Homo sapiens: one gene and its partner. The protein of the gene in region 1 binds, or shares a complex with, the protein of each later gene. Each region holds a gene or a part of one and is shown on either strand. Other genes may lie near its edges. A codon is read from its position in the direction of its gene.

Region 1 (15,267 bases):
CCCAGTAGGGGCGGCTGGGCAGAGGCGCCCCTCACCTCCCGGACGGGGCGGCTGGCCGGGCAGGGGGCTGACTCCCCCACCTCCCTCCCGGACGGGGCTGCTGGCCGGGCGGGGGGCTCACACCCCCACCTCCCTCCCGGATGGGGCGGCTGGCCGGGCGGGGGGCTGACCCCCCCACCTCCTTCCCAGACGGGGCGGCTGGCCGGGCAGAGGGGCTCCTCACTTCCCAGTAGGGGCAGCCGGGCAGAGGCGCCCCTCACCTCCCGGATGGGGCGGCTGGCCGGGCGGGGGGCTGACCCTCCCCACCTCCCTCCCGGACGGGGCGGCTGGCCTGGCGGGGGCTGACCCCCACCTCCCTCCCGGATGGGGTGGCTGCCGGGCAGAGACGCTCCTCACTTCCCAGATGGGGTGGCTGCCGGGCGGAGGGGCTCCTCACTTCTCATATGGGGCCGTTGCCAGGCGGAGGGTCTCCTCACTTCTCAGACGGGGCGGCTGGGCAGAGACGCTCCTCACCTCCCAGACAGGGTTGCGGCTGGGTAGAGGCGCTCCTCACATCCCAGACGGGGCGGCGGGGCAGAGGCGCTCCCCACATCTCAGACGATGGGCAGCCAGGCAGAGACGCTCCTCACTTCCTAGATGGGATGGCGGCCGGGGAGAGGCGCTCCTCACTTCCTGGATGGGATGGCGGCCGGGCAGAGACGCTCCTCACTTTCCAGACTGGGTAGCCAGGCAGAGGGGCTCCTCACGTCCCAGACGATGGGCGTCCAGGCAGAGACGCTCCTCACTTCCCAGACGGGGTGGCGGCCGGGCAGAGGCTGCAATCTCGGCACTTTGGGAGGCCAAGGCAGGCGGCTGGGAGGTGGAGGTTGTAGCGAGCCGAGATCATGCCACTGCACTCCAGCCTGGGCACCATTGAGCACTGAGTGAACCAGACTCCGTCTGCAATCCCAGCACCTCGGGAGGCCGAGGCTGGCGGATCACTCGCGGTTAGGAGCTGGAGACCAGCCCGGCCAACACAGCGAAACCCCGTCTCCACCAAAAAAATACGAAAACCAGTCAGGCGTGGTGGCGCGCGCCTGCAATCGCAGGCACTCGGCAGGCTGAGGCAGGAGAATCAGGCAGGGAGGCTGCAGTGCGCCGAGATGGCAGCAGTACAGTCCAGCTTTGGCTCGGCATCAGTGGGAGACGGTGGAAAGAGAGGGAGAGGGAGACCGTGGGGAGAGGGAGAGGGAGAGGAGGGAGAGGGAGAGAGAGAGGGGGGAGAGGGAGAGGGAGAGGGGGGAGAGGGAGAGGGAGAGGGGGGAGAGGGAGAGGGAGAGGGAGAGCCAGAGCTGCTTTTTTAAAAATTTTTTTTTATTTTTTATTTTTTCTGAGACGGAGTCTCACTCTGTCACCAGGCTGGAGTGCAGTGGCGCAATCTCGGCTCACTGCAACCTCCGCCTCCTAGATTCAAGTGATTCCCCTGCCTCAGCCTCCCGAGTAGCTGGGACTACAGGTGCGCACCACCACACCTGGCTAATTTTTGTATTTTTAGTAGAGACGGGGTTTCACCATGTTGGCCAGGCTGGTCTCAAACTCCCGGCCCCAAGCAATCCACGCGCCTCGGCCTCCCAAAGTGCTGGGATTACAGGCGTGAGCTAGTGTGCCCGGCCTCAAGAAAATATTTTAATGTAAAATTTCCATTGAAATATTCCCACATATAGGAAGGCAGTGGTCTGCTCTTTTCTGTATGAATGTTATATACCATTATTTTTAATAGTTGCATAGTACTGTACTATGTAGATTTCCAATAGTTAATGGCCTTTTTTGTTTGCTAATTTTTGCAATTACACATACACAATTATGCACATTCACAAACAATTGCAATGTGTGTAGTGAACATCTTTGAACATATATCTTTGAACATTTGTGCGAGTATTTCTAGATAGAAGTAGGATTGTTGGGTCAGTGGTTGTGTAATGCAAAAATGTTAAAAGATACCGCCAAATAGCCCTGCTGAAAGATTTTTACCAGTTTACTCCTCTACCAATGGTATTCGAGAAGCTACAACCCTTTGAGGCAAGATCTCCTTAAGAAGTTGGAGACTCTGCTATGCATAGTTGAGAATTTGACTCTGCACTGTTTTGTATTTATCTTTAATGACTTCATAGGTGCTAGTCTTTTTGCCCCTAGAATATTTTAAGTTCCTTGGAGGCTGGGATCATGTCATATACTTCCTTGGTATTTCCCATATTGCCTAGTACAGGCTGAGCAAACTATGGCTGTTGCTTAATACATACTTCATGATTGATTGATAAACTGGTTCTATTTTTGGGCTGCACAGTGATTGAGGTGAGCTCTTGGAATGAGAGAGCTGGGCAGAGTCAGAGACTAGGGCTGTGCCGGGTCAGTATCAGATGCTGTCACTTGCACATCAAGTTTAGACCGTAATCTGAGAATCTAAATGTATAAAGCACCTACTACAATCCCTGGCTCAGAGGAGGTCCCCAATAAATGATTTCTATTGCTGTTATGATTCTCTTTTAATGAGAGGATTGTCTTAGGGCTACTGTTGAGGGTTCAAGCATAGGACCTAAAGCCATCCCAGGCAGAGTCAGAAATCCACAGTCCAGAGATGAAGTCAAATTGGGAACCAGTGGGAGCAGCCAGGCATCTGAGGCAGAAACAGAGACCTGCGTTTGGGCAGTTCACTTGCATTGTGATGAACACTTTCCTGGCCATCCCAGGCTGTTTTTTGGGGGGCTTTCTGCATGTTTGGCTTTCATGCAAAAGTATCTTTTTTGTTTGTTTTTGAGACGGAGTCTTGCTCTGTCGCCCAGGCTGGAGTGCAGTGGCGCAATCTCAGCCCACTGCAACCTTTGTCTCCCGGGTGGAAGCGATTGTTGTGCCTCAGCCTCCCAAGTAGCTGGGATTATAGGCACCTGCCACCAAGCCCAGCCAATTTTTGTGTTTTTATTAGAGTCGGGGTTTCGCCGTGTTGGTCAGGCTGGTCTTGAACTGCTGACCTCAGGTGATCCACCCGCCTCAGCCCCCCAAAGTTCTGGGATTACAAGCGTGAGCCACCGCGCCTGGCCATGCGAGGACATCTTTAAGGTGCTGCTTAGTTCCCAAGAGAAGCCAACAATCTCAGCACAGGGCTGTGAACATAGGAGGTGCTCAGTGAAAGCAATCCCATTTACCTTTTGCCTGTTGAAACAGATAATGTGGCAGGAATGTCAATGATTTACTTGAGAAGAGGAGGCTAAGGATCAGCCATTCTACTAGAACAAGATTACTATCCAGGCTTTCCCCAGTCCCAGGTGGGGTAGGGGGCTGGGAAACCCAGTCAGATAAGGATTCAATTCAGTGATGAATTTAGAGGTTATGAAAACGTGGTGGTACATGGATGACAAGGACTCTATACAGTGAAGAATGGGTCTCATTTTTTCTACCTCTCTACCCCAGTCAGCAGGATGGCTAAGGGAGGGAGATGGGAGGGGGCAGTAATGGAGATGTCATTATAACATACAGCATTGACTGTGTCTCTCTTCCATGCCAGACAGTTAGCACACAATTCCCTTTATAACTCCATGATATAGGTATTAGCTTTATTTTACAGATGAAGAAATAGTCTCAGAAAGGATAAATTACTTGCCACAGGTTATACAAGCTATTACGTAGCAGAGCCAGGATTTGAACCGAGGCCTGTCTGGCCATAAGGCTTATGTGCTTTCTGAGCTACCTACCATCCTGGATCTTCTATGTCAGTGATAGCAGCCCAGGCCTCAGAGAAACAGATGTTGCTTAAGAATACTAGCTCATCATGCGTGGGTAGGGCATTCCGTGGTTCATTCTTTTGTTCATCAATTCGTTCTACACACACATGCATTTATAGCCAGAAAGCAGAAAGAGATGTGCAAGTCAGAGAGGTGGGGTGGAAAGGGCTGTGTGTGTGGGGAGGAGGGCAAAGTGACATGACAAGTTTGAGGCTACAGAAAATAGAGAATAAAGGAGCTATCATGAGCTCAAAAGCAGGATGGGGGCTGATGCTTTATGTCTGCTCCTGGATGTAGTACTGAATGGGTCTCCGGGTGGTTACAGAAGAGTCTTTGAAGCAACACTAACAGGAAAGCTTCAACCCAGTGGTGGCACTCAGGATCAAACAGCACATTACACCTACACCTACACACGCCTACACACACACACACACACACACAAACACACACACATGAAGAATAAATGTGGAGACAGGTATTTTTAAACAAATACTCCAGAACATACATGATAACACAAGGAGCTGTCTTATAAACTGGAAGGCTATACCTTGATTTTTGTGGTGTTTCTAGTGCTCATCACATGACTATAACCCCTTTTCTTCTCTCTCTTTCTTTCTTTCTTTCTTTCTCTCCCTCTCTCTCTCTCTCTCTCTCTCTTAGATGGAATCTCGCTCTGTCGTCCAGGCTGGAGTGCAGTGGAGCGATCTGGGCTCATTGCAACCTCCGCCTCCCAGATTCAAGTGATTCTCATGCTCAGCCTCCTGAGTAGCTGGGATTACAGGCACCTGCCACCATGCCTGGCTAGAGATAGGGTTTCACCATGTTGGCCAGGCTGGTCTCAAACTCCTGTCCTCAAGTGATCTGCCTGCCTTGGCCTCCCATAGTGCTGGGATTACAGACGTGAGCCACTGTGCCCGGCCTATAACCTCTTTTCAAAAGAGCCAACACTGACTTGGATGTAAAAAGTGGGAAGTCTGTTGAAAAGAGAAGAGAAAAGAATAGGAAAAAACAGTCTCAGTTTATAGTCACAATTTAGTTGTGTGTGTGTATTAAGACTTTAAGGATTATATAAAATGATGTAACTACATAGGAGGAAGTACTATGGGATGTTTGTCCACATAAATTTTCCTTATTTTTCTTTGAGTGTTGAGAATAAATAATAACAGATTGTAATAAAACAAGCCTGACTCACATAGCCACTTAGTCCGAGAGGGAATGTGACCCAGAGCAGGGAGGGACAGAGCTCAGGAATGTGTCACCATGACACATCGATTCCAGGACTCCTCAGGCTTCACCTGCACCTGAGCTATGGACAAAATATGTTTGAGTGCTACAGAGGCTTATTTTTCACTGCTCCATAGTCAGAAGGATGGCAGCTGGGGTGACCATACTATTCCTAAGGGCATCTGATATACATAGGCTTGGAAATCCACAGGGCTGATGAGGTTTAGGGAAGTTCTTCTCCCTCCCATACCAAGTGTGTGCAATACCAGCACCCTCCAGAATTCAAAGCGGGAGAATTGGAGGCAATGATACTGATCGTACACTTCATGAGGAATAAACTGTTGATCATAATCAGCATGAGTGCTAAGGAACAATGGAAGCTTTATAAAGACAAACCTTCCTTTGCAAGTTAATTACAACACATCTCAGAATTACCTAGTGTTTTTTAAATCCTTTAAGAATTTTGAAGGGTGCCATGAAAGTGTCAAATGTAATTATTATGTAGCTTTTTGTTTCATATTGTGTGGGACACATATACTGTAAAGGAAAAATAGTTCTTGACCATGTATGTGGTCCTTCAACTAACATACAACTGCCTTAGGAAGAGCTTTGGCAGTCTCTTCTGTACTAATTCCAAATACCAAATCTCTAAAACTTTGAAATTTTTATCACGCTTAGGAAAACCTAGGCTGGTAATGTAGGCATTCTCCTCCAATCTTCAACCTTTTCTCTTATCTCCTCTTACACTTGGAAAGGAGATGCCACCTTCAACCTTTTCTCATATTTCCTCTTATATTTGGAAGGCAGGAGCCATACTGGTGAAAACAGACCTAGTGTCTTTTAAAGTCACCCTATAGTATAATACTGTGGTTCTCAATTGTTTCCCCCCTTCAATCTCAAACTTTTTTTTTTTTTTTTTTAAGACAGGGTCTCTCTCTGTCGCCCAGGCTGGAGTGCAGTGGCATGATCTTGGCTCACTGCAACCTTCACCTCCTGGGTTCAAGTGATCCTCCTGCCTCAGCCTCCCTGGTAGCTGGGACTACAGGCGAGTCCCACCGCTCCCCGCTAACTTTTGTCTTTCTAGTAGAGACGGGTTTTGCCATGTTGGCCAGGCTGGTCTTGAACTCCTGACCTCAGGTGATCCACCTGCCTCGGCCTCCCAAAGTGCTGGGATTACAGGCGTGAGCCACCGCGCCCAGCCCAATCTCAAACTTTTAATGCATGCAACTCACTCGGATCAGTAGCAGTGGCTCATGGTGGCAGTAATGCAGAGCTGGGTGGCAGAAGGAAAAAATCAATCTGGTTGGTGGGTGGGAATTCTGCCTTGGATTCTCCCCTTAATCATCATAAGCTTTCCAAACCGAATAAAAATTTACAACCTTTTTGGCAATCTTTACTTCATTACCTACCTGGAAGAATTTATGTCCTCAGTGGAGTTTCTTTAACTCCATTAATGTCAATTAGTTGTTTTAGGTGCTGCAAAATGATAATACGTTCTTGGGGACATTTATCCTTTACAACATGCTTTTTATGCTTGTTTGTGTGTTTTGATTTGAAAGACTTAGAGATGCAGGCTAGGGTGACTGGGACAGATATGGGGTCCCTGGCTACTGAATGAGACTTGGGAGGCAGATGACTTGTTTTTATGCCGATAAAGAGTAAAATCTCAAGTTGCGGTTGATTTTAAAATGCAAGCAGGGCTGGAGAGGCCCATGGCAGACCTAGTTTGGGGTGAGCACCCGGATCTGTGAGCTAGTGTTGCTTCAGCATCTCACTGTGTGTGTGTGTGCGCGCGCGTGTGTGTGTGTGCGCGCGCGCGCGCGTGTGTGTAGGCTGGTTCCACCCTTTGCTGTCCCATCGGCACTACCCTTAACCTCCGTCTCTGCGTAACTATATTAATAGAAGGCAACACTTCACATACTGGCGCTCAGACCCCAAAGAGAGGCTGGCAGTGGCTTGGCAGGTGGGCATGCAGCAGGGAGATGGGTGGAGGAGTGGGCGGAGGCATCGTCGAGTGGCGTTAGGCAAAACCAATGGCAGTTCGGGATAGGGGCGGCCGGGGCGGAGGCGCCGAGGCCGATCGGCCAATAGAGGGCGAGCAACTACTGGAGCGACCTGGTGACGTGAGGAGCGTTCCATTTGGCCAGTGGTGGGCGGTTGCCACAGCTGGTTTAGGGCCCCGACCACTGGGGCCCCTTGTCAGGAGGAGACAGCCTCCCGGCCCGGGGAGGACAAGTCGCTGCCACCTTTGGCTGCCGACGTGATTCCCTGGGACGGTCCGTTTCCTGCCGTCAGCTGCCGGCCGAGTTGGGTCTCCGTGGTTCAGGTAACGAGGGGTGGGGGCGGGGGTCTCCTGGGCTCGGCTGCAGGGTGGGCTGCCTCCCCTTCCGCGGCGCCTGGAGGCGGGGACGTCGGCACCGCCCTTCTCAACTCGGCAGCCGCCGAGCCCCTGGCCCGGGGTGACTACACGTGGCGGGGCGTGTGTGAGTGTGTACGAGCGTGTGGCTGCGTGTGCGTGTGGATGTGGCGCGCGTCCCAACCTGCCTGGGGCGGTGGTCCGCGGCGTGGCGGAGTCAGGGCGGGCCTCGAGAGGCCGCGCCCGCGGCTCGGCCCCGGACTCCGGCCTCCGGCCTCCGGCCCCCCGCTGGGGAGCCGGTCGCTGCTTCCCGACGGATTTTGATCTTTGTTCTTCCAGGCCGGCTCCCCCTTCCTGGTCTCCCTTCTCCCGCTGGGCCGGTTTATCGGGAGGAGATTGTCTTCCAGGTTAGTTTTACACAAAGGACGGGTTCTCTGCACCTCTGGGCCCCCCTCCCCTTCCCCGAACCTTCTACCTTCTCGTTTCCCTGCTCCGCTCCTAGGCTGTTTTTGGACCTTTGCCCTCTCCAGCCCGCGAGTTGGCTGTTTCTCCCTCCGTCCGTCGGGCTGCAGGCTTCCGCCTCAGTCCTGCCAGCGTGGGGCATGTGGTGTCGGTAAATAGAGGCCACAACACCACACCTGAGCGGAGGAGAAGGGTAGCAGAGGCTGAGAAACTCTGGGCCTGGGAATTCAGGATGCTGAGTAGAGATGGTACTTAGGACATGTCCCAGAAAGCGCCCTTGTGACTTTTCTTAGCTGCTGCCATTCCCCACCCCCCAACCAGCCATCAGCAGTCACCAACCATTCCAGAATCTCTCCTGCTTAAGTCAGCCTTTCACCTACAGGTCTCTGATGTGGTTTCATTAAGATTCTCACAAATGTTAGGCTAGACCAGCCAGATTGTTTCATTTCCCGGACTCAGGAAGTTGCAGAGGGTTTGATGAGGGGAAATCTGTTTTGTGTAAATACAATGCACGTATGTGCACAGAGCGTCCAGAACCTCCTGGCCCTGCCAGAGGGTGACTTGTTCCCTGCTGTGATTCATATTCGAGTGGCTAATTGAAGAAAGAAGGTGAAGTGGAGGAAGGGAGGGAGGTTTTATAAGGACAGAAACTCTACTATTATTTTTAGAGTCCTTTTAATGATGTTGAAAGAACACTGTGGCATAGTGGAACATGCCCTTGACTGGAAGTTAGCAGTATCAGCATTGCTGCTGTGTGGTCCTGGATAAGTTATTTCCTCTCTCTGGTCCTCAGTTTACTCATTTACAAAACAAAGTATTAATAATTGGCACGATCACCTATAAAATCCTCTCTAGTTCCAAGGTTCTGTGATGATCAGATCATCAGCATTAGATTGGAAGCATAGAGGCTTATTTAAGAAGAAATACTAGCCCCTTTCCTTTTTTGAGAACCTTTTATCATACCTTCTTTTAGAGAACAAACACGAATTGGAAATAAACTTTTCCCACTTCCCCGTCCCCACCCCTTCAGTCAGTTTTCAACTTTCTGTCTCTGGGAAAGGAGGGTTGAACTGTATTTTCTTATTATTGCCTCATTTTTTTTTCTTTTTCTGCTTTTTCTTAGGGCTAGCAATTGGACTTTTGATGATGTTTGACCCAGCGGCAGGAATAGCAGGCAACGTGATTTCAAAGCTGGGCTCAGCCTCTGTTTCTTCTCTCGTGTAATCGCAAAACCCATTTTGGAGCAGGAATTCCAATCATGTCTGTGATGGTGGTGAGAAAGAAGGTGACACGGAAATGGGAGAAACTCCCAGGCAGGAACACCTTTTGCTGTGATGGCCGCGTCATGATGGCCCGGCAAAAGGGCATTTTCTACCTGACCCTTTTCCTCATCCTGGGGACATGTACACTCTTCTTCGCCTTTGAGTGAGTTTCGGTTGAGTAGAGTTACCTGATTATGGTTACTTTGGGTCCAGGGGAAGAACCTGCTTTCTGGGGAGTTTGGGGCTGGTCCTTGGATGACTTTAACGTCCTCTTGAGCGATGTCTGTAGAGATGCCAGCTGAATTCATTGCTTCGTGGTCATCACAGAGTATGTACTTCCTAAAAAGACCAATACCTTTGATACCAATTTTGTAGTACTGATTTGGGGCTGTCCTTGATAGACTTGGGAAATAAGAAAGTTTGTCTTAATTACTCACCTCTCCCTTTTAGTGGTCTCCTTAGAAGCTAAATGACAGATGGCCTCCCCTGCACACAAACCTGAGGGCACCCCTCATTGTTACATTACTCAGCAATCCTCACCTATTTTGTTATTCTGGGTCCTGTTTCCTTAAGGCTCAGCTCTCAGCTAGCTGGTACAGTGAAAAGCCAACTGAGTTGGGAACCTACAGATTAGTTCCAGCCTCAGCTGGACCACATACTAGTTGTGTGCGTGGCACATACGTGCTTATTAGAAGTGAGTTGCTCTTTCCCTCAAAATCACTCAACGTAAACAGCTCTATATTCTGTGTATGTCTGGTACCAGCCTTGGAGTGATTTTTTTTCTGTGGTGTAATACCTCGTACTCGAGCCACTGTTTGAAGTCTGTGTAGGTCTCGTCTCTAGGGGAGGTGGCCGGCTGGATTCTAGGGCACTGTGGCGTGTCTCCTGGGTGTGCTGAGAATGCTCTACACTCTAGGGATGGGAGCATTGCTAATTGTTTTGGGATTACTGTGAGGAGGCCTTTGAGAGCCAAGAGGTGTGTGTGTGGACTGTAAGCCACACCTGAGGTGAGCGTGCTATGGTGTATGTACATGGGTGACCTGGAAATGGAGGGCTTATGCTGGGGTGTGTCCATGGGAGGTAGGAGGGGGCACCTTGGCCAGCCTAGTGGGGAAGTAAAATGAGCTCTGGTCCCTTGGGGCTCATTTTTGTCCTTCTGTGAGGGCTTCAGGCTTTCCCAGTGCACCCAGAGTGATTTTTGGGCTGCTTTGCCAGACTTTTGGGTGGTTGCAGCTGGCTTGAGTAACAGCAGGGGGAGGGAGATCCAGTTTATAACGGGGCTGGGAAAGTAAGGTCAGAGGAACTCTTTGTTAAAGGTCCTTTTGCTGCTGCCGCCGCTACTGCTGACTTTGTGAAGTGTTTAGTGAAGTCAGGCAGGTTGCTGAAGGCTTCTTATTTGCTTTCCAGTTTGAGTTTCCTGAATGAGTGTGTGTGTGTGCATATGTGCACGCACGTGCTTGTGTGTGGTACCAGTGAGCATGTGTAGTCAGGCAGGCATAAGCCCCTAGCATTAAAAATTGTTTTTCCTTCTCCTCACCCTTCTCTCCAAGTATTCCTTGCCTCATTCCTGTCCTGCTTCTTCTTGGAAGTGCAAAGCTGACATCTGTTCTTTATCATTCTTCCTCTCTTTTTCTCTTTTTGTCCCCACCCCCACCTCCAGGTTAAATTTTTATTACAACTATTCCAAACAGAGATGAGCCTTGTTCCCAGGCTTTGAGTTAGTTGGTAGTTCTGGGCCCAGGAAACCTCTGGTTTGACTGGCCAGGGGTACTTGAAATTTGGAGGTATTGCCATTTGTCCCCTTTTGTATCTGGGAGCCAGCAGAAGAATCTGACTGGAATCTGTTCCACTGAGGCCCCTGCAGGCCTCTGAAGAAAACCGCTGGTGGGATGAAGCTTCTAATTAGCCAAGTTACCATTTGACAGAGGCAGGTTGAGTTTTCTACCATGATGACTTCCCCCCGCCCCAGGTTATTTCTTGCATTTTGAAGGGTGAGGTTATTTGTAAAACTTACTTGAGTACCAGCTGTCTGTGTGAAAGACTAAATATTTTTGAAGATAGGGCTGGAGGAGGGAGTAGTGGGAAGAAGAGGGGAGAAGGAAGTAAATGTGTTAGCAGAGGAGTGGAGGGGGGAGGTGGAAATGTGACCACAGAGGAGAGGACCCTGGTGATGAATACTTTGTACATGTGTGGATGTGCGTGCTTGTGTATGTGTGTGTGTGTCTGTCATATACAGACACATAGACACTTTAGGTGGTGGCTGCCTTGTGCCTAGCCAGTGACAGGTTGTACAAGGTACACCAGCATGCCTCTGAGGAATGAAATCTCCTTCTGGTCGGCCTTTTTCTTTGGCATCTATAATTTCCTGTCCACCACATAGTGGGGGCAGGGTTTGGGGAGCAGAATGTGGGCTGCTTTGTTAGTATTAGGACTTAGCGCAGTGGCTCATGCCTGTAATCCCAGCACTTGGGGAGGCCGAGGCAGGCAGATCACTTGAGGTCAGGAGTTCGAGACCAGCCTGGCCAACATGGTAAAACCCCCGTCTCTACTAAAAATACAAAAATTAGCCCCGTGTGGCTGTTGTGCGCCTGTAGTCCCAGCTACTCGGAAGGCTGAGGCAGGAGAATCCCTTGCACCTGGGAGGCGGAGGTTGCAGTGAGCTGAGATCTTAGCCTGGATGACAGAGTGAGACTCTGTCTTAAAAAAAAAAAAAAAAAAGAACTTAGTGAGGCCTCAGGAAATCAGTTGATCTAGCCCCCTGCCTTCAGGCAGGTGAGGGTGTCTGAATAGACAAATGGTGATCTATTTTCATTCTTACATTGTCTAGGAGTAGAGACTCCACATCCTCTGGCTGCTGTATTTTTACCTTGTGGGAAGATAGTCCAAATCTTGAGGCACATCTGGAGCTGCATTTTAGTAGCAGGGTCCTGCTTGCAGCAGGTGCTTAGGAACAAGTGTGAGTTGATTTATAGCTGCCTGCAGCACAGCTCTGGGCCAGCCAGATGGCTTGAGAAGTCTGGTCAGGCATGTGGGTGCCCCTTAATGAAAAACGCATAATGTTAGCAGTGCTGGCAGATGTCCTTTTATTTTTGGATTATGCCTTTACATATCTTCTAGAAGACTTTTCAAATGAGTGACCTGTAATTTTCAGTGGACACATAGTAGATTGAATACATAAAACAAAAAAAGTTGTCCATCCTGGGGCCAGTTAGCTCTGTATTGTTAGAGTGTTTCTTTTTTTTTTTAATTATTTTTTATTTTTTATTTATTTTTTGAGACAGGGCCTTGCCCCATCACCCAGGCTGGAGTGCAGTGGCATGATCTCTGCTTTTGCAACCTCTGCCTCCCGGGTTCAAGCACTTCTCCTGCCTCAGCCTCCCGAGTAGCTGGGATTACAGACACCTGCCAAATACAAATAATTTTTGTATTTTCAGTAGAGACAGGGTTTCACCATGTTGGCCAGGCTTGTCTCGAACTCCTGACCTCAAGTTATCCACCTGCCTCAGCCTCCCCAAGTGCTGGGATTACAGGCATGAGCCACTGCGCCCGGCCTGTTAGAGGTGTTTCTGAAGAAGCCGGGGGGTCTCTCTCGGGCCGCTGTCACCGAGTAGAAATTTGGCCAAATATTCACTAAGCCTCTTGCAACTCCAAGAACCTGAAATTCTGTATAACTCTGTGTCTGTCTGGAAGACTCAAATACACACAAAAGGAGATTATAGATTACCAGTAGGTTGCTATATTTAAATATAATTGTATTCATGGTAAACGTATTTAAGTTTAAAAGCAGAGTGAAAAATGGTATAATGCTTAAAGAAAAAGGATTTTCTAATTAATTCTTAGGGTGAGGTATTTAAGAAATGTGAGTGTGTATTGCTAGTTTCAGCTTTGAGCACATGAACAATTTTCAGTTCTTTCTGCTTAAGCTCTATCCAGCTTGTGCGATGAACACATAGCTACCAGCTTGGCCTGAAGTGTTAGGACACTGTAGCAGAATGCCACTGACAACCTAGGAGACATCCAGCTACTGAAAGGCTATCGTGGTATTCAGTCAAATTCAACTTCCTGATAAAGTGTGATCCTGGAGAAAGGAACAAGTGCACTGTCTCCTGGAATTGGCTTCCAGCTTTCTCTTTTAGCTTTCTGACCTGGCCACTAGTGGGATCAAGGTCCTCAGACTTCTCTTGTGGCAAGAATGACTATGAGACTCTTGACCCCTGAAGCAGAAGCAGTTTGCTGCTATAATCAGTGCTTATGGTCTCACTGTGTCCTCTGTATATGAAGGAAATCTTATCAAGGCACTGTCAGACCAGGTTCTGTCAGGTTGGTCCCCATTAGAGCTTTTGATGTATATATTGGCAGAAGAGTCATTGAATTGGATGAACTGAAAACAGCTTTGTAACACTGCTTAGTAATCAATAGTAATCAATACAAACAATACTTTTCTAGCCTATCCAAATTCTACCCCTCTTTCAAATTCTTTCTTGAGTCTTTCTTCATGAAAACTTTCCAGTAATTTCTGCATTCATTGGGCTAATTGTACACACCGCTCATTCAACAGATAATCACATGACATTTCTTATAGTTTGGAGCTATATGGTGATTACACTTCTCACTGTTGTTGTCCCCCGCAGCTAGTCTCTTTCAAGGTCAGAGACTATGTTCAATGGCTGTGTAGCCCCCACAGTGCTCTCTACCATGCCTTACATAGAGTAGATGGCCAATAAGTGTTGCTGAATTAAAACATTCTAGATGTACTTAAAATTTAACAATCTTGACCCACAGAATCATAGGATGGTAGATCTGGAAAGGGCTTTGGAGACTATCTCCCTCCTTGTGTGGGGTGAGGAAACCAGGCCCACAGAAGTGAGTTTCCTTTATCAAGATGAGTTGACCAGCCAACGTCTCTATACTGACTCAGGGCTTTTTCTTCTAATTTCGACATTTTATCTCATTGTTCATTGTTACCCTTTGGCTATGGAATCCTGAAGATATTCAAACACACATGCTTTAGTAAAGTGTACATAGTACCAAATACTAGGCCAGCATATTCCAGATTCTTGCGAGCTAGTGTGTGTGTTACCCAGTGGCATCTAGGCTCTTTGGGTCTCCCAAGCTTATGCTCCTAGAAAATGAAGGCATCTTTGCAGAGAACTGATGGTATTGCAGCATGGCATTTCTGGTAGCCTTGCAGGAACAGGGAAGCCTATCAGGAGCTTTGTGAGTTAACAAGGGATCATCACTGCTGTGGCCACTCCTGGTCCCTGCTGCCAAGATGAGGATGGCTTGGAGAAAAATCAAGCAATGTGTGCTCTGTACATTGTTACTTAGTGACTTATCCTGATGAAAGGGGCAGTGTGGGCTGGGCGCAGTGGCTCATGCCTGTAATCCCAGCACTTTGGGATGCTGAGGCAGGTGGATCACTTGAGGTCAGGAGTTCGAGACCAGCCGGGCCAACATGGTGAAACCCTGTCTCTACTAAAAGTACAAAAAGTCAGCTGGGCTTGGTGGTGCACACCTGTATTCCCAGCTACTTGGGAGGCTGAGGCAGGAGAATCACTTGAACTTGGGAGGCGGAGGTTGCAGTGAGCCGAGATTGTGCCATTGCACTCCAGCCTGGGCAACAAAACAAGAACAAAACTCCATCTAAATAAATAAATAAATAAATAAAATAGAAAAAAGAAAGAGGAGGTGTGTCTGGCAGACAGGTGAAATAGAAAAAGCAGACCTGATAATATGAACTTACTAGGTTTGAGGAGACACAAGACTATGTAGACCAAAGCCAAACTTTGACATACCAGAATGTTAGTGCCCACAGTGACAAGGTCCAGGTTCCTGAAGAGCATCCTTATGTGAGATTGGGAAGAGGAAAAAGTGACTATATTGTGCTCTGTAACCAAGAGTGCATTCTCTGGGGAATGACTCTATGGAGGTCAGTCTTGGCTTTATCTAGCTTCGGATTCTGTCTGTGACTTGACTAACCAAATGAGTTTTAGAAAGGCATAGTTGCCTCTTTGGTATCAATCTGTTACAGTACTTAGCTAAACTTAACTTCCTGATGAAGTATGTTCCTTGAGAGAGAGTTCTTCCCAAGAGTTCCTTGGGTTGTATCTCCTGAACAGTTTGCTTTCTTTTTCTTTTCTTTTTCTTTTTTTTTCTTTGAGACGGAGTTTCATTCTTGTTGCCCAGGCTGGAGTGCAATGGCACAATC
Region 2 (15,939 bases), on another chromosome or scaffold:
CTGCTATAAAGACACATGCATACGTATGTTTATTGTGGCACTATTCACAATAGCAAAGACTTGGAACCAACCCAAATGTCCAGCAATGATAGATTGGATTAAGCAAATGTGGCATATATACACCATGGAATACTATGCAGCCCTAAAAAAGAATGAGTTCAGGTCCTTTGTAGGGACATAGATGAAGCTGGAAACCATCATTCTCAGCAAACTATCACAAGGACATAAAACCAAACACCGCATGTTCTCACTCATAGGTGGGAATTGTACAATGAGAACACTTAGACACAGGGTGGGGAACATCACACACTGGGGCCTGTTATGGAGTGGGGGGAGTGGGGAGGGATAGCATTAGGAGATATACCTAATGTAAACGACGAGTTAATGGGTGCAGCACACCAACATGGCACATGTATACATATGTAACAAACCTGCACATTGTGCACATGTACCCTAGAACTTAAAGTATAATAATAAAAAAGTCAAAAAATAAGTAAATAAATAAATTACCTCTTACCTCTCTCACACAAAGACTTTATCATATTGTCTTAAGATGGAATGTTAAATATATTCTTTTAAACTGGAGAGGAAATGAAAACAAGCCATATAGAAAACAAACTAATCAAATTGTTATAATTTGATTATAAACCAGCCTTGTATAGAAAATGTTATGATCCTCCCAAATTTATTTGTTTTCTGTCGGTATAAGCAAGACCTTAACTTTTAACTTCAGAGCACTCGCTCCATTTCTCTGGAGTCTGGTTTTCCCGGATGGCTATTCCCAACTTTTCACTTGAATACGCTCTTTAAAACTGGATTCTGATCCTTTCCATTATTTCAGGTTGACATATCAAAGAATGAAAAACATATTACAAACGATATGGATACCACTTGGTTCAGCACCACTCAGCCATAAAAGGTGTGATGGGTACAGAGGTTGAGTTGAACACGGAGTGCTTTCTGCAAAGCAGGATTCAATAACATTTGTGAATGGATAGTGTGGAAAGCAGAGAGGCTTCTAAAACATACTAAGCAGGGTTCTGAGTCTCCAGCCACAAATGTGCCTTTCTCAAAACAACATCCTCTACACTCCCATCTTCTCTTTTGTCTTTTTTGGGATCCTTTACTCCAGTCATTCCTCATCTTGATTCTTTTCTAGCCTCAAGTTGTCCAACTCATTCCCTCTATAAATGTATCTCCAGTAACAAATGTCAAAAGGACAGGAATTTTGCTCTCTCAAAAGGAAAGATTAAAGTATGCATCCCTTTTTCAACAATGCTATCCCACAGTGGGTGGAGGGGATTTTACAGACAGCCTCATTTCCCATTTTTCCAATGCCCTAGAATGCATATTACTATAAAGCAACCGTAGAAATTAATCCTTTGTGTTAGTGAGTATTTGTCCTTTATGGGAAAATTAGACATAACATGCAGTGCACATGGAAGAGCCCACAGGGGGAATTGTGAAGTTTTCATCCCTAGAGGTCATAAAGATAGTTGAAATAGTGCCAGATTCTAAGAAGGACACCTGGGCCAGATGTTTACCAGGCCCCTCCAACTCAAGGGAGGTACAATTCTAAGGAGGGAGGTCTTTTTTTTCTTTTCTTTTCTTTTTTTTTTTTTTTTTTTTTTGAGACCGAGTTCCACTCTTGTTGCCCAGGCTGGAGTGTAGTGGCGCGATCTCAGCTCACTGCAACTTCCACCTTCTGGTTTCAAGTGATTCTCCTGCCTCAGCCTCCCGAGTAGCTGGGATTACAGGGGCATGCCACTACCTCGGGCTAATTTTTGTATTTTTAGTAGAGACGAGGTTTCACCATGTTGGCCAGGCTGGTCTCCGACTCCTGACTTCGTGATCTGCTTGCCTCGGCCCCCCAAAGTGCTGGGATTACAGGCGTGAGCCACCGCACCCAGCCTGTTTTTCTTTTTACTTTTGTCAAAACTGCCGTCAAATCAGGTTCCACAGAAGATATGGACAGTTAATCATCTATCCCAGATAATGATGGTGTGTTCCCACTAGATGCCCTCATATTTCTTCCATCCACAACTAGCTATATGATTTTTGAGGCCCAGTGCAAAATTAAAGTGCAGACTCCCATGTTCAGAAAGTATTACGAATTTCAAGATGATGACAGCAGGACATTAAGCCAAGAAGAGAGCTCTTCTCAGTGCAGATCCCTATGCAACTATACAAGTCACACACCCGTGACACCACCCTTGCTTCCAGCTCTGCAATTCTACACTGTGCTGGTGAAAAGAGTCTGAAATCTCCAAACCCTCTTATCCACCAGCCACTTCAGATATGAGAGGTCTTCAATAGGATCCTAAACAATAAAGGCAAAGGACCCTTATTAATGACATCATTCAATCTGCTCTTCTCCCTCACAATGAAATAAACAAAAATGTAAGCAAGAGCAGCTCTTTCATGGAGAGAGCATTCAGTACAACTGTCTGGCATCTGTTCAGCCTGTTTCCTGAAACTGGGACACACGTTGTTTTAGATGGTGAAATTTAAATGGAAGGAACAGATGCTGTCAATTCAGGTATGCCAATAATGTTCTCTCAAAATGCAATAAAGACATACAAGCTTATAAAACGGAAGCTGACTTGAAATTACCAGCAAATGCATGAAAACAAAGAGACAATGATCCTTGGAGTTCTGCCCATTGTACCAGTGCATGGTAGACACTAGAACTGAAAACGAGGAAAATGGATTTGATCTGCCCCCACCCCAGTCATGCCTCAAAGCTTTAGAAGAAAACAACTACTACAAAAAAAACGATGTTAGACGAAACGGGGATGGCTTCGGTGAGCAACGTGAGCATGGCCAAGGAGGACAGTTTAAAATTTCTTTAGTATAAGGACGTCTTTCAATCCAATTGAGATCTTTATGAAGGACCTGGGAGGAAGTGGTTGGACACAAATAGAACAAAGCCCAGGAGAGATCGTAGCTGAAGAGAAGACGCCATCTGCAGCGTGGGAAGCTGTTTGTAAGCAGGGCCGAAAATGATCCAGGATGGGTCAAAAGTTGAACATGAGTTGGTGATACAGAATGGGACCCCGCATTGAAAAGCTAGCTTTGTTCCAATAGAGAAAAAAAAACAGAGTTGAAAATGGAGGGACAAAAGGATTTCACTGATAATATTCAGCACAGGTTAACGCTCTTATCAGAGTATCTAGTTTGAAACACCAGAAGGTTCTGAGAGTCATACAAAAAGACAGAAACTTTGGAATAGAGATCCTACCATCGAAGATAAAGGAAGCTGGTTCATTCACCTTGGAGAAGAAACGATAGAGGGGTGTGTAAAAGGATATAAGATTTTTATCACCATCTCTCTTCTCTATTAAAGATCTCTCATCCCTACTCCCACCTGACCCTCACCCAAGCAGACTTCAGATCCTACTTATTTCAGGTATGAATACTTATCATTCCCTGGACAGAGAGGCTGGAATGCCCAATTATCTCTCCTTCTGTTAAAACCCCTCCCCTTCCCCAAAGTTTTTTAACCTGTTATAATCTCCCTCCTCCCACCCTCCTGGCCACCCATAAGAATGTGAATTTCCACAGGACATAAATAATCCACACTTTTTTTATCCTTTCATCACCAGCCCTTATGAGTGTCGACAAATATTTGTTGAATGAATTCATTTTCAAAGCATTTCATGAGAATCTATTATGGACAGAGGAATAAAATAGATAATATGTAGGCTTCAAAGAAGCTAAACATAGACAAGGGACTCAAAATTCAAAAAGGAAGAATGAATTGTCAATACTGTAGACTAATAGCTTGACTTCAGCTCCTTAAAATATCAGAGGATTGTTGAAAACATAGAAAGGAATAAAATAATAGTGTAGGGCTAGTGAGCTCATAGATTATAGATCATATCTGTATTATATAGTATTATCATTGTTTGGCCAGGGTTACTAGATTAATAGATATAGTAGAGATTATATGAGGTAATGCATATAAACCGCTCAACCTAGTTCCTTAACACTAATAGCCCAATGAATAGTAGCTGCTGCTATCATGATGTTAATGTTAGCAAATCATTTGACTATGTCACTAATGATGTAATAATTTAAAAAAAAAACAGAGTACCATACAGTATTTGTTATGTGCCAAACACATTCTAAGTGTTTTACATACAATATCACATTGACACCCTCTACAAGGTAGATGTACTAGATTTAATAGTGTCCCCCAAAATCCATGTCAGTCGGGAACCCCAGATCCTTATTTGCAAATAGGGTCTTTACAGATGTAATCAGGTTAAGATGGTCAGACAGGATTAGGTGGGCCCTAAAGCCAATGAATAGTGCTCTTTATAAGGAGAGAAATATTTCAAGACACAGAGAAGATACAGGGAAGAAGGCCATGGGAAGATGGAGGCAGAAATTGCAGTTATGCTGTCATAAGCCAAGGAATTCCAAGGATTGCTGGTAACTGCCAGAAGCTATTTGGTTGGTACAAAAGTAATTGCTGTTTTACTTTTAATGGCAAAACTAGAATCTAGACACATGAGTGTGTTTAGGGATGAGGGAAGACGATAACAATACAGCTCATCGTCCTTTGATTCCTCTTTCACCTGGGATCGATCCTCTTCCCAAACATGAAGAGGGTTTTCCTTGGGTTATATTTGCCCTCAAATTTCCTCATTCAAAAATAATCTGTTTGCTGGGTGCAGTGGCTCACGCCTGTAATCCCAGCACTTTGGGAGGCCGAGGCGGGTGGATCACGAGGTCAGGAGTTCAAGACCAGCCTAGACAACACGGTGAAACCCCGTCTCTACGCAAAAAAATACAAAAATTAGCTGGGTGTGGTGGCACGCACCTGTAATTCCAGCTACTCGGGAGGCTGAGGCAGGAGAATGGCTTGAACCCAGGAGGCGGAGGTTGTGGTGAGCCGAGATCGTGCCACTGAACTCCAGCCTGGGCGACAGAGTGAGATCCATCTCAAAAAATAATAATAATAGTCTGTTTTACCACCTAGTCTCAGTGGCCAAGGGCTGCAGGAAAATACTCCAAATATACAATGTATGAAAATTGTTTTCTTCGTTCACTCCATTAGACTGAAATTTTGAGGGTAGAGACTGTTTTACCTGTTTAAGGGTGTTCTCAACCCCTAGTAACAAATATGTAGAAAACCAGCTCCTAGGAGATCTTACTGAGTTAGTAAGGAAGCATCAACTTCGGAGACAAACACTAGTAGACATTTAATTCAAAACAGGATCAGATCATGAAACGGAATAGAAAGTCCAAAACAGGCAGACAGAGGGACAGACAGACAGACACACACACACACACACACACCACTGATTTTCTTTTTCTTTTTTTTTTTTTTTTTTTTTTTGAGACAGAGTCTCGCTCTTTAGCCCAGGCCGGAGTGCAGTGGCACTATCTCCGCTCACTGCAAGCTCCGCCTCCCGAGTTCACCCCATTCTCCTGCCTCAGCCTCTCGAGTAGCTGGGACTTATAGGCGCCCGCCACGGCGCCCGGCTCATTTTTTGTATTTTTAGTAGACACGGGGTTTCACCGTGTTAGCCAGAATGATCTCGATCTCCTGACCTCGTGATCCGCCCGCCTCGGCCTCTCAAAGTGCTGGGATTACAGGCGTGAGCCACCGCGCCCGGCCCCCACTGATTTTCAACAGAGATACAAAGGCAATTCAGTGAAGAAATGAGAGTCTTTTCAACAAATGGTACGTAAACAACTGAATAACAACTGCATAATCATACGGGGGGAGGGAAGAGTTTCACTCTATACCTATGGGAGGCAGAAATGCCCTCCCCAAGAGGTCCACACCCTAATCCCCTCAAACCCCTAACGTGTTAAGAGAGTAAAAAGACAAATCACAGACTGTGAAAAATGCATGCAAATCACATATCTGATAAAGGATTTTTCTCCAGAATGTATAAAGAACTCAAAACTCAAAAACAGCCCGGCCAAGTTCTCACGCAAGTATAAAGGCCTCAGGAAAACATCTTTAAACATACAAAAATCCAAGAATTAAAGTGCCTTAAAAATTTAAAACTGACCTTAAGCCCAGCCAATAAAGATGTAAATCAAAACAAAATAAAACAAAAAACCCCTCAACAACAGGAAAATAAAATACAAACAAAAAAATGGGCAAAAGTTTTAAATAGACACTTCACCAGAGAAGATACATGGATGGCAAATAAGTACAGGAAAATATGTTCAAAATAATTAGTCATGGAAAAATGAAAATTATAGCTGCAGAAGATATTACTACCCAAGTCTTGGCAAAGATGTGGAGCAACTGGAACTCTGGTGGGAATGCAAAATGGTGTCACCACTTTGGAAAACAGTTTGTCAGTCTGCCAAAAAGTTAAACGTGTTTTTACCGTACAATCTAGCCATTCTACTCCTAGGTATGTACCCAAGAGAAATGAAAGCATTAAGGTCTACACACCTATGCAAAGACTTGCAAATGAATGTCCATAGCAGCTTTATTTGTAACATCCCAAAACTGGAAGCAATCCAAATGTCCATCAACAGATGAATGGATAAACAAACTGTGGGATGGCCATACAATGGAATAGCTATCCAGCATCAAAAATAAATGAATTATTGATAACACAACAACAGATGGACTTCAAAATAGTCTATGTGAAAGAAGCCAGGCAAAAAAAGGGGGTACACACTATATGATTCAATTTATATAAAATTCAAGGAAATGAAACTAATGTTGAGTGACAGAAGGTGGATCAGTGCCTGGGAAATGGGGTCTGGGAGAGGCAGGAGGGAGAGATTACACAGGAGCTGGAGGAACCTTTTCAGGGCAATGGAGCTTTACTATCTTGATTGTGACAGTGGTTTATGGGTGTATTCATATGTCCAAAGTTATCAAATCCACTGCTTTAAATGTGTGGTTTATTGTATGCCATTTATATCTCGAAAAAGCTGTTTTTAAAATACAGTAAGAGAATTTTTCATATTTAAAAGGCAGGATATTTAAACTATATTAAATATATAAAAGACAGTGGTACTAACAGGTTGTATTAGCAGGAGACAAGGGTAAGGTGGGGTTTCTTTGGCTGCCTTGCAAAGAAATGCTGAGTCAAGTAAGGGCCAGTGGGCAACGAGGGCGGAACCACTTGTCCCCTTGGTCACCTGAGGGATGTGGATGGGAGCTGGGTGGAAATGGGGGGTGAGAGGAACGCCGCCCCCAAAGAAGAGTCGGGGCAGGGGCGCCCAACGCTGGGGCCCAGGCAGGTTCTTCGTCCTCACTTCCTGACCCTTTCTCAAGAGTCTAGGGACCAAATGGATCCATCCTTGGAGCCTGCTTTCTACTTCTGAACACAATGAGCAGTTTGTGTTTGAGGGTTTGGGGAGGGGGTGTTGTTTTTTCTTTATGTTTTGTTTTTTGTTTTGTGTATGAGTTGGGTGGCATAACCCACACGTAAGCTGCGACGTCCAATCAAGAACGAAAATGACCCCTCACAATCAGTGATCGGGAACCACCTGCCACAATCACTAGGGAAGTGACACAGCCGGGAAACTCCGCCCCTCACACCCCCGCGCGCTCGCGCCGGCCGCAGCCCCACAGCTCGCCCCGGCCGCAGCCCCACAGCTCGCCCCGCCTCTCTCCTTCCGGAAACAATCCCCGCGCGGGCGGAAGGCGGGGTCGGCCCTGGCCCCGCCCACATCATTTCCCTTCCTCGGCCCAGCCCCACAGCGCGCAGCTTCGGCAGGGTGGCTTTACGGCCGGAGGAGAGGGTGGGTCCCAGACCTGAGGTAGGAGGCCGAGCTGAGGGGCGGGGAAGAGGCTTTTTGCGGCAGGACGTAAGTGACGGCGAAGGCGGTGCGACAGCAGCTGGAGGGCAGAGGAGGCGGGTTTGTGTTTCCCGGGCCGAACCGGGTTGTGGGGGGCGCGGGGCCTGGGCCAGGCGGCAGCTAAGGCCCGCGGTGACAGCATGGGTGAAGGGGAGCGGGGCAGAGGAGGCCTTGGGCTGTTTTCGGCGGCGGGTGGGGGCGAGGGGCTGGCGGGTCAGAGTCCCGGGTCCAGGCCGGGGCTCTGACTCGCGGTTGGTGTTCCCCCGACCCCGCAGCGCGGGGTGTCCTGTCCTCGCCATGAGGCCGCAGCAGGCGCCGGTGTCCGGAAAGGTGTTCATTCAGCGAGACTACAGCAGTGGCACACGCTGCCAGTTCCAGACCAAGTTCCCTGCGGAGCTGGAGAACCGGGTACGCAACCTGGCTCCCCACGCCTGCTCTGGCGAGGGAGAGAGACTCACCGGGGACGGGAAGGGTGTGGGCGACAACCGGGCCTTTGAGGGTCCCGCAGTTCTGGGGAGGTCCAGGCACAGAAGGGGCCTTGGCCAAACGTGTAAGAAGAGAGCCACTAAGCAAGACAGGTGTTTGGAGCAGGAAGAATAATATAGGCCGATCGCCGGGGTTGACGACCTTATGGAACTTTGTTGCCCGGTGCCGGGAATCTGGATCCAGCAGTGTTCCCCTGCTGCACTCCCCCAAATCCCCACCCCGGGTTATTGTCGGCAGCGATGAGGAGCCAATTCCTGAGGCTCCAGGTCGTCTCAGTCACCAGGTTGTAAACTATATCCTCCTACCTCTCCGCGCAAGATAAATCATCATCATTCTCGTGACTGGTGTTTGCTGCCTCTGTGCTGGCCGCACTGTTTGGCTGAAAGGGTTTATTAGGTGCATGGCCAGGCGGTGCGTTCAGGCTTTCTTGGAACCTTAAAGACGTCGGGCGTTAGATAGGCCTGGACAGGAAAATGTCTCAGAACAAGGCCTTAAACTTGTCACATTCACTGGGAGCCACCTGTTTTGTCTTGCATATCAAAATGGTCATCAGGATATAGGTCCTTTGGGCAACATTGCAGGCAAAAATGGAAGAATGGGATTTGCTTCCCCTTCAGACCTAGCAAAACTTTAAAAAAAAAAAAAAAATCATTGTATCTTGTTGTAGAGGTAATGGAGTGTGTGCGTGCCTGCCTGTGTTTTTGTGTGCCCACATATGTACATTCAACCAAAGATTCTTTTGGTCTTGACCCATGTTATGTAGATTGTGTTTCCCGTTCAGGGATCAATTTCTGGTTAGCTGGAAGCAGGTTTTGTGGCTCTCTCCTCTGTGACAGGGAGGACGAGGGCCTGAGAGGTGATTAGGCATTCCTTGGGTGTGGGACTGAGAGATGCTGGTCATGGGATAAGTGGGTGTGGATGAGTCTGTGTAGAGAAATGTGTAGCAGTTATTTACAGTCAGTTTGCAGTGAGGTGGGTTGCACTGCCCGATTTCCATGGTTGGGAAATCAACAATGATCCATTATAGTTTCCTTCAGTTTGACATAACCATGGGCAGCTTCATGGCCCAAATATGTTTCTTGAATTGCAAATGGATCAAATATGCCTTTAAAAGATGGTGAGGTGACTTGTTTCTGAAATGCCATTTAAATGCTGCAGTATGTTGTCAACTATGTTATGAGTTAACTGAGCGTGACAATAGGTGGAACTATCTACAGTGGTTTGAAGAGGTAGAAATTCAGCAAGTGGCCAGTTGGGTAGAGCTACTGAATGTTGTTTTAAAATAATTTAACATCACAATTGATGTGTTTTACATGTTAAGATTGACATGGAATCTGGCTGGGCCCGGTGGCTCACGCCTGTAATCCCAGCACTCTGGGAGGCCGTGGCGGGTGCATCACTTGAGGTCGGGAATTCAAGACCAGCTTGGCCAACATGGTGAAACCCCATCTCTACTAAAAATACAAAAATTAGTCAGGCATGGTGGCGGGCACCTGTAATCCCCGCTACTCAGGAGGCTGAAGTAGAAGAATTTCTTGAACCTGGGAGGCGGAGGTTGCAGTGAGCCGAGATCATGCCATTGTACTCCAGCCTGGGCGACAGAGCAAGACTCTTGTCTCAAAAAATAAATCAAATAAAAAGATATACATGGAATCAATCAAATGTTTTATTTTTAAGCCTCTTACGGAAACTATGACATACAATTTATGTACTTCAAAATCAGAATATAAAGTATTCTTTTTTTACCACAATTATTTGGACATTAAAGATTCCTTTGCTTTAAGGTTTTAAAGCAACACTTACACCTCATATATTTGAGCTAAATGTGTATACACAGAATCAGACATTAGCCTTCCACTCTGTGTGTGGCAGAGCCTTTATTTTGTAATCTAAGTGCAAAAGCACAATGTAGTTACTGTGCTCCACTGATTCTTGTCAGGAAATTGATGTTTCTAAATTCTGGAGTCCTTTTACCTCTTTGACTCTGTATAGCCCAGAACTGCTTGTGGTACTGAGTACTATATGGAATGTTACATGGCACTCTTCAATTGTGCCTTTGAATTTCTTTTTTCTTTTTAAATGTTTGGGTTAAAACACTAGCTTATGCTTTAAACCACTAGAAAAGCTTTGATTGTCTGTGTATGTGTGTTGAGATTAAATTTAAATTACAGGTTTAAACTTTCCTTGCTTTGATGAAAAATTGAAAGGTTTCTGTTTCTCTACTACTTACCCTAGAAATTTTACTGATTGCTCTGCTATTGGAGCTGATTTTCCTTTTGTGAGAACATCACACTTGGCAACATAATAGAGAAAGTGACTAATATGCAAGTGTTTTGTATTATTTTAAAGCATTTTTTAAAAATACACACACATTTGTGCCCTTTAATTTGGGAGTAGGATAGGTTCTGTCTGTTAACAAGTTCATTTTCTCTGCTGCCTTTTAGAATGTAATACTTTGATGCTTAAGCGATTTGTTGCCAGAACAATTCCTTAAAGGAAACTTTATTCTCATTAGCCTTAAAATACAGATATCTTAGTTACCCTTGGTCTGGGTAGAAGAATGAGTGAACTGTAATTGAGGCATTTTTTCCCTTTAAAAATATGTCTCCCCATCTGGTTAGTAATTACCTTTGACCTGCCACCCTTGATACGTGATCACTGCATGCTTCACCATGCTTTCTACTGTGTAGTTCACAGTAATTCTGGGAAAATAAGCCTGATTTCTCTTTCCATTCTGATTTTTGATGTTTGTGGGTCCAAATTTTATTTGGCTGTGACTTCTCATATATCTAAATTTTGATAGAGCTCCTGTATCAGTGTCCAGGAACCTAAGGGAGAACACTGGCCACTGTTATTCATAGCCTAAAGGTAGTAAGATACAAATGCCAACATTTGTTCTCTTGAGCCCTTTCTTGTGAAGTTTGTCGTTTGCCTTTATTGATGCCTTCTGTGATTTTTACCCTTTATTTCCCTTTTTTAAAATAACCTTTCAAAAACTTGTTGGCATTTACTTTTCTTTAACCATTTATCCTTTCTTTTTCTTTTTTTATTAACCTTTTTTTGTTTGTTTGTTTAACTGACGTATGATTTACCTCTAACCTATAGGGCATTGTAATCTCGGAATAACGCATAAGAATTAAGTGTTTCTGGCTGGGCATGGTGGTTTGCACCCAAGTAATCCCAGCTGCTCTGGGGGTTGAGGTAGGAGTATCCCTTGGGGCCAGGAGTTCAAGACCAGTCTGGGCAACATAGCGATACTCTGTCACTAAACTTAAAAAATAATAATAATTAGGGTTTCCGGGATAAACAGTAATTCTGATATGAAAGAAATAAGATGTTTCTGGGTTGAATCCCATGGTTTTGAATTGTATTGTAAAGAAATATAAATAATTCAATGACTTATAACATAGGCACATCAAATGTGATTGGAATTATTTAGACTTTTGTAGACTTATCGGTGGACAAACTGAAGGCATTAACGTAGGCATAATTAGGTGAACGTAACAGCTTACCATTTTTGTTTGCTGAGCTCTCCTCAGTCTGTTTTCGTGAATGAGAACTCACAGTTTCCCAGATGACCAGCCTTGACACCACATCTACAAGGGGTAGCTCAGTGAAGAAACACTGCCCCTGCGTTTAAAGGCCGTCTTGACCCACCTAGCCTTTGTCCAAATCTCTAATATTCCTGGAAATTTAAAGTAACTCCTTTTGAAAAATGGGTAGAGCCAACACCACTTTAAAGTTTGCATTAAATTCATGCATGCCACTAGCCCATTGACTCCTCACATTTTCCACACAACGGACAAAACAATGACTACAACTGCTTCTAACTTAAAGAGTTGTCATAGCTTAAGGATGGTCATGAATTGTTTTACACTTTAAAAGATTATGTTCTTGAGGCCAGGTGCAGGTGGCTCTTTGGGAGGCCAGGGGGGTGGATCACATGAGGCTAGGAGCCTGAGACCAGCCTGGCAACATGGCAAAACCTCGTCTCTACTAAAAATACAAAAATTAGTAGGGAATGGTGGTGCACGCCTGTAATCCCAGCTACTCGGGAGGCTGAGACACGAGAATCACTTGATCCTGGGACCAGAGGTTACAGTGAGCCAAGATTGCGCCACTGCACTCCAGCCAGGGTGACAGAGTGAGACTCTGTCTCAAAAAAAAAAAAAAAAAAAAAAAAGATTACATTCTTGGGAATAGTGAATAGTAGGGCTCATACTGTATGTTGAGGGTTTTTTTTCTTTCTTTCTTTTTTTGAGACAGGGTCTCACTCTGTCACCCAGACTGGAGTGCAGTGGTGAGATCTCAGTTCACTGCAACCTCCACTTCCCAGGCTCCAGCAATCCTCCCACCTCAGCCTCCTGAGTAGCTAGGACTATAGGCATGCACCACCACGCCTGGCTAATTTTTGCATTTTTAGTAGAGACAGAGTTTCACCATGTTGCCCAGGCTGGTCTCAAACTCCTGAGCTCAAGTGATCCACCCAGCTCAACTTCCCAAGTGCTGGGATTACAGGAATGAGCCACCACGCCAGCCTGATTTTTTTTTTTCTGAGTCGGTTTCTATTATAAAGAAAGATTTAATAGGTTCACAGAGACAGGAAAGGAGAAAAAAAAAAAGCCAAACAAAAAAGTCTTTTAAATAAGGACTTCATAAAAGAGAGAATTCATACGTAAGTAGTTATTAATTTTAGAAATAAGGGAATCCTTATGCGAGAGAAGGCCTAGAGTGCAGACAGATAAGAATGGCAGTATTGGATGATTGCTCTCCTAATGGGCCTTGAAAGTCCTGGGATGAAGTAGCAAAATTTGAAATCTGTTATACAAAGTACTATTAGAAGACAGTAAAGTAATATTGGAAGAATAAAGTAAAAGCAGATGATTGAGTGAAACAATGGATGACAGTACAGGTTCTTTCTTATGTGAAATATGTGGAACCAGAAGTATTTCAGTTTTTGGGGTTTTTTTAGATTTTGAAATATTTGTTTATACTAATGAGATATCTTGGGAATGGGATCCAAGTCTAAACACGAAATTCATTATGTTTTATATCCACCTTATACATATAACCTGAAGGTAATTTTATACAATATTTTAAATGACTTTATGAGACAAAGTGTGTGTACACTGAACCATCTTATCACCCTTTGTGAGCACGCTTGCATGGGAGAATCTGGCTGTGCATGGAAAAGATACATGGCAGCTGATGGGGGCTGGAAGGGTCTTTTTCTCTTGGGGACACTGAATAAACTATGTGTTGTGCGCCTGCATTTTGACTGTGACCCCTCACATGAGGTCGGGTTTGGAATTTCCCACTTGTGGTATCATGTCAGTGCTCAAAAGTTTCAGATTTTGGAGCCTTTCTGACTTCAGAATTTAAGATCAGGGATGCTCAACCTGTGGTAGTATTAGTGTAAATTTAAGATAATGGTGTCACCAAATAGAAAGAGGTAATAAGAATGACTTAATGTGAAAAATTGTTTATTAGCTTGAGATTTTACCTTAACAAATTTTACCTTATTTAGTAACAAGATAATTGCTTCAAAAGAGATAGGCTGAGTAAACAGAATATAGAACCTACGCCTTTTGATCCTTCTGCTAAAATGCCATTTTTTTTTTTTTTGCCTAGTAAATTCCAGTCTTTAGTTACTCAATTTAAGATTACCTGCCCTTCCCAGATAAAGGGAATTTCTCCTTGCTTTTGTGTCCCCACTAGGCTTTATATTTGCCTATATGATAGTACCCTGTCAGTTTATTGCTTTTTTTTTTTTTTTTTTTTTGAGACGGAGTCTCGCTCTGTCACCCAGGCTGGAGTGCAGTGGCGCAGTCTCGGCTCACTGCAAGCTCCACCTCCCGGGTTCACGCCATTCTCCTGCCTCAGCCTCCCCAGTAGCTGGGGCTATAGGCACCCGCCACCATGCCCGGCTAATTTTTTTTGGTATTTTTAGTAGAGACGGGGTTTCACCATGTTAGCCAGGATGGTCTCCATCTCCTGACCTCGTGATCCGCCCACCTCAGCCTCCCAAAGTGCTGGGATTACAGGCATGAGCCACCGCACCTGGCCAGCTTACTGCATTTTTATGTTTACATTGCCTGTTCTGCTTGCATAATTAAACTCTTAAGGATTGAGACAGTGCTTTATCTTGAGATTTTTCATAGTATCTGATAGTAGGCGCTCAGTAAGTGTGAAACTAAATGAATGGAAAGAGGAATAGAGCCTAAAGTTACTTGAAATTTAGTAGAAAGAATAAAGAAGTACCTTATTGAGCCTTGAAGCTATCCAGTATTTATAAGAGGGATAAAATTAAACAAATTAAGCAGTTTTGGTAACTTAGGCCCAGATTTAGTCACCAAAAAAATTGTCAACTAAGAATGGTGAGAAAACAAGATAAATTAATGATAGCATGCATTAGTTGATTTTTTTTTTCCAAAACTTAATTTTTAAATATTTTCTTCTCTACAGATTGATAGGCAGCAGTTTGAAGAAACAGTTCGAACTCTAAATAACCTTTATGCAGAAGCAGAGAAGCTCGGCGGCCAGTCATATCTCGAAGGTTGTTTGGCTTGTTTAACAGCATATACCATCTTCCTATGCATGGAAACTCATTATGAGAAGGTAATGCTACATTTGTTTTCACAAAAATCTCTTAAAATCATGAAGAAGGCAAGTTTATTACACATTGATGCTTACATGGTGATAGTTGCCGTAAAATATTTAGGGGCATTTATCATTCAAATTGTGTTGTTCCTGTGTACAGAGGCACATAGTCCTGAGTCTTTCAAAACAGGTTGCAGTTGGTATGTCCACTTGCAGATGATGTGTCAATGTTCAGACTGGCCTACACTTAAGAAGAATGTAGAAAATCTATATGTTCTCTTCCTACTCAGCTTTCTGGGAATGTTTTTACTTTATTTCCCTAAATTTCACTCTCTTCTCCCACCTGAGTTCTTACTTTCTCTTTCCAGCTGCCTACTAGCTCCCGAATTGCTGATTTCTCAACTTAAGATGACCAGAAGTCAAACCTCCCACCTCCCCATTTTGTCAATAGCACCCCTGTCTTTTCAGTACCATCTTTGGGCATGAGGGATGAAGAAGAGGGAAAAATTAATCTGTTTTCAAAGACTGAAGTATCTTTCATTTTCCCAGTCATTAACTTTTTGTGATTTCCTCTGCCACTATCCTGGGTTATGCCCTTATTCTGTCTCTCCTAGACTATTGAAATAGTCTGACTTGTCTCATTTCTTCCCTCCTTTTGCTTTTCTAAACTATCTGCTGTTGTTTTTATAAAGCGCAGATTTACTTCCCCTACTACTTCTGCCAAGTCGGAGACCTTCCCTGGATTCCCATGTTTTACCACTGAGTAAAATTCAAGGCCCTGCTCAAGTTGACCTCAGCTTACCTTTCCAGCGCTACCTCCCATTCCTTCCTTCACTTTCTCCCTCAGCCAAACTCCATCCCTCACTGGTCAGCAAACATACCCACTGTGGTTCTCCTCCACCTGGAATGCTATCTTCCCAGGTTCAAATCCCACCAGTCCCTTAGGTCTCACTTCCATCTAACTTGTTCTCTGTTTTAGTCAGAATTCTTTCTCTTCTCTTGTGTCCCTACAACATTTTATTTGTATCTGTTTTCTGGCACTTGCCTCACTCTTCTTTGGAA

Evidence for each region.
Region 2: the proteins of ZDHHC9 (region 1) and GOLGA7 are in contact, whole or in part, in a cryo-EM structure (PDB 8HF3), measured with the Homo sapiens proteins. Residues at the interface, in NP_001008223.1 of Homo sapiens: Phe78, Ala81, Arg85, Ile94, Pro95, Leu98, Asp100, Glu101, Phe104, Ile105, Phe129, Gln130, Ile131, Asn132, Ile146, Pro149, Pro150, Arg182, Tyr183, Leu186, Tyr274, Lys281, Cys284, Glu285, Leu287, Cys288, Gly289, Pro290, Leu291, Pro292; in NP_001002296.1 of Homo sapiens: Lys11 (codon at 8,119), Phe13 (codon at 8,125), Gln15 (codon at 8,131), Tyr18 (codon at 8,140), Ser19 (codon at 8,143), Ser20 (codon at 8,146), Gly21 (codon at 8,149), Thr22 (codon at 8,152), Ala57, Glu58, Leu60, Ser64, Tyr65, Gly68, Cys72, Ala75, Tyr76, Thr77, Phe79, Leu80, Tyr86, Glu87, Leu90, Ile116, Arg118, Gly119, Arg121, Val122.

The regions. Positions count from the first base shown.
Region 1 is NC_000023.11:129,835,734-129,851,000, reverse strand, and holds the start of ZDHHC9 (palmitoyltransferase ZDHHC9), read left to right. Parts: upstream 1-7,114; 5' UTR 7,115-7,305; intron 7,306-7,401; exon of another isoform or gene 7,402-7,674; 5' UTR 7,675-7,742; intron 7,743-8,920; 5' UTR 8,921-9,055; coding exon 9,056-9,222; intron 9,223-15,267. UniProt on the Homo sapiens protein: Palmitoyltransferase that catalyzes the addition of palmitate onto various protein substrates, such as ADRB2, GSDMD, HRAS, NRAS and CGAS. The ZDHHC9-GOLGA7 complex is a palmitoyltransferase specific for HRAS and NRAS.
Region 2 is NC_000008.11:41,482,767-41,498,705, forward strand, and holds the start of GOLGA7 (golgin subfamily A member 7), read left to right. Parts: upstream 1-7,815; 5' UTR 7,816-8,088; coding exon 8,089-8,199; intron 8,200-14,742; coding exon 14,743-14,895; intron 14,896-15,939. UniProt on the Homo sapiens protein: May be involved in protein transport from Golgi to cell surface. The ZDHHC9-GOLGA7 complex is a palmitoyltransferase specific for HRAS and NRAS.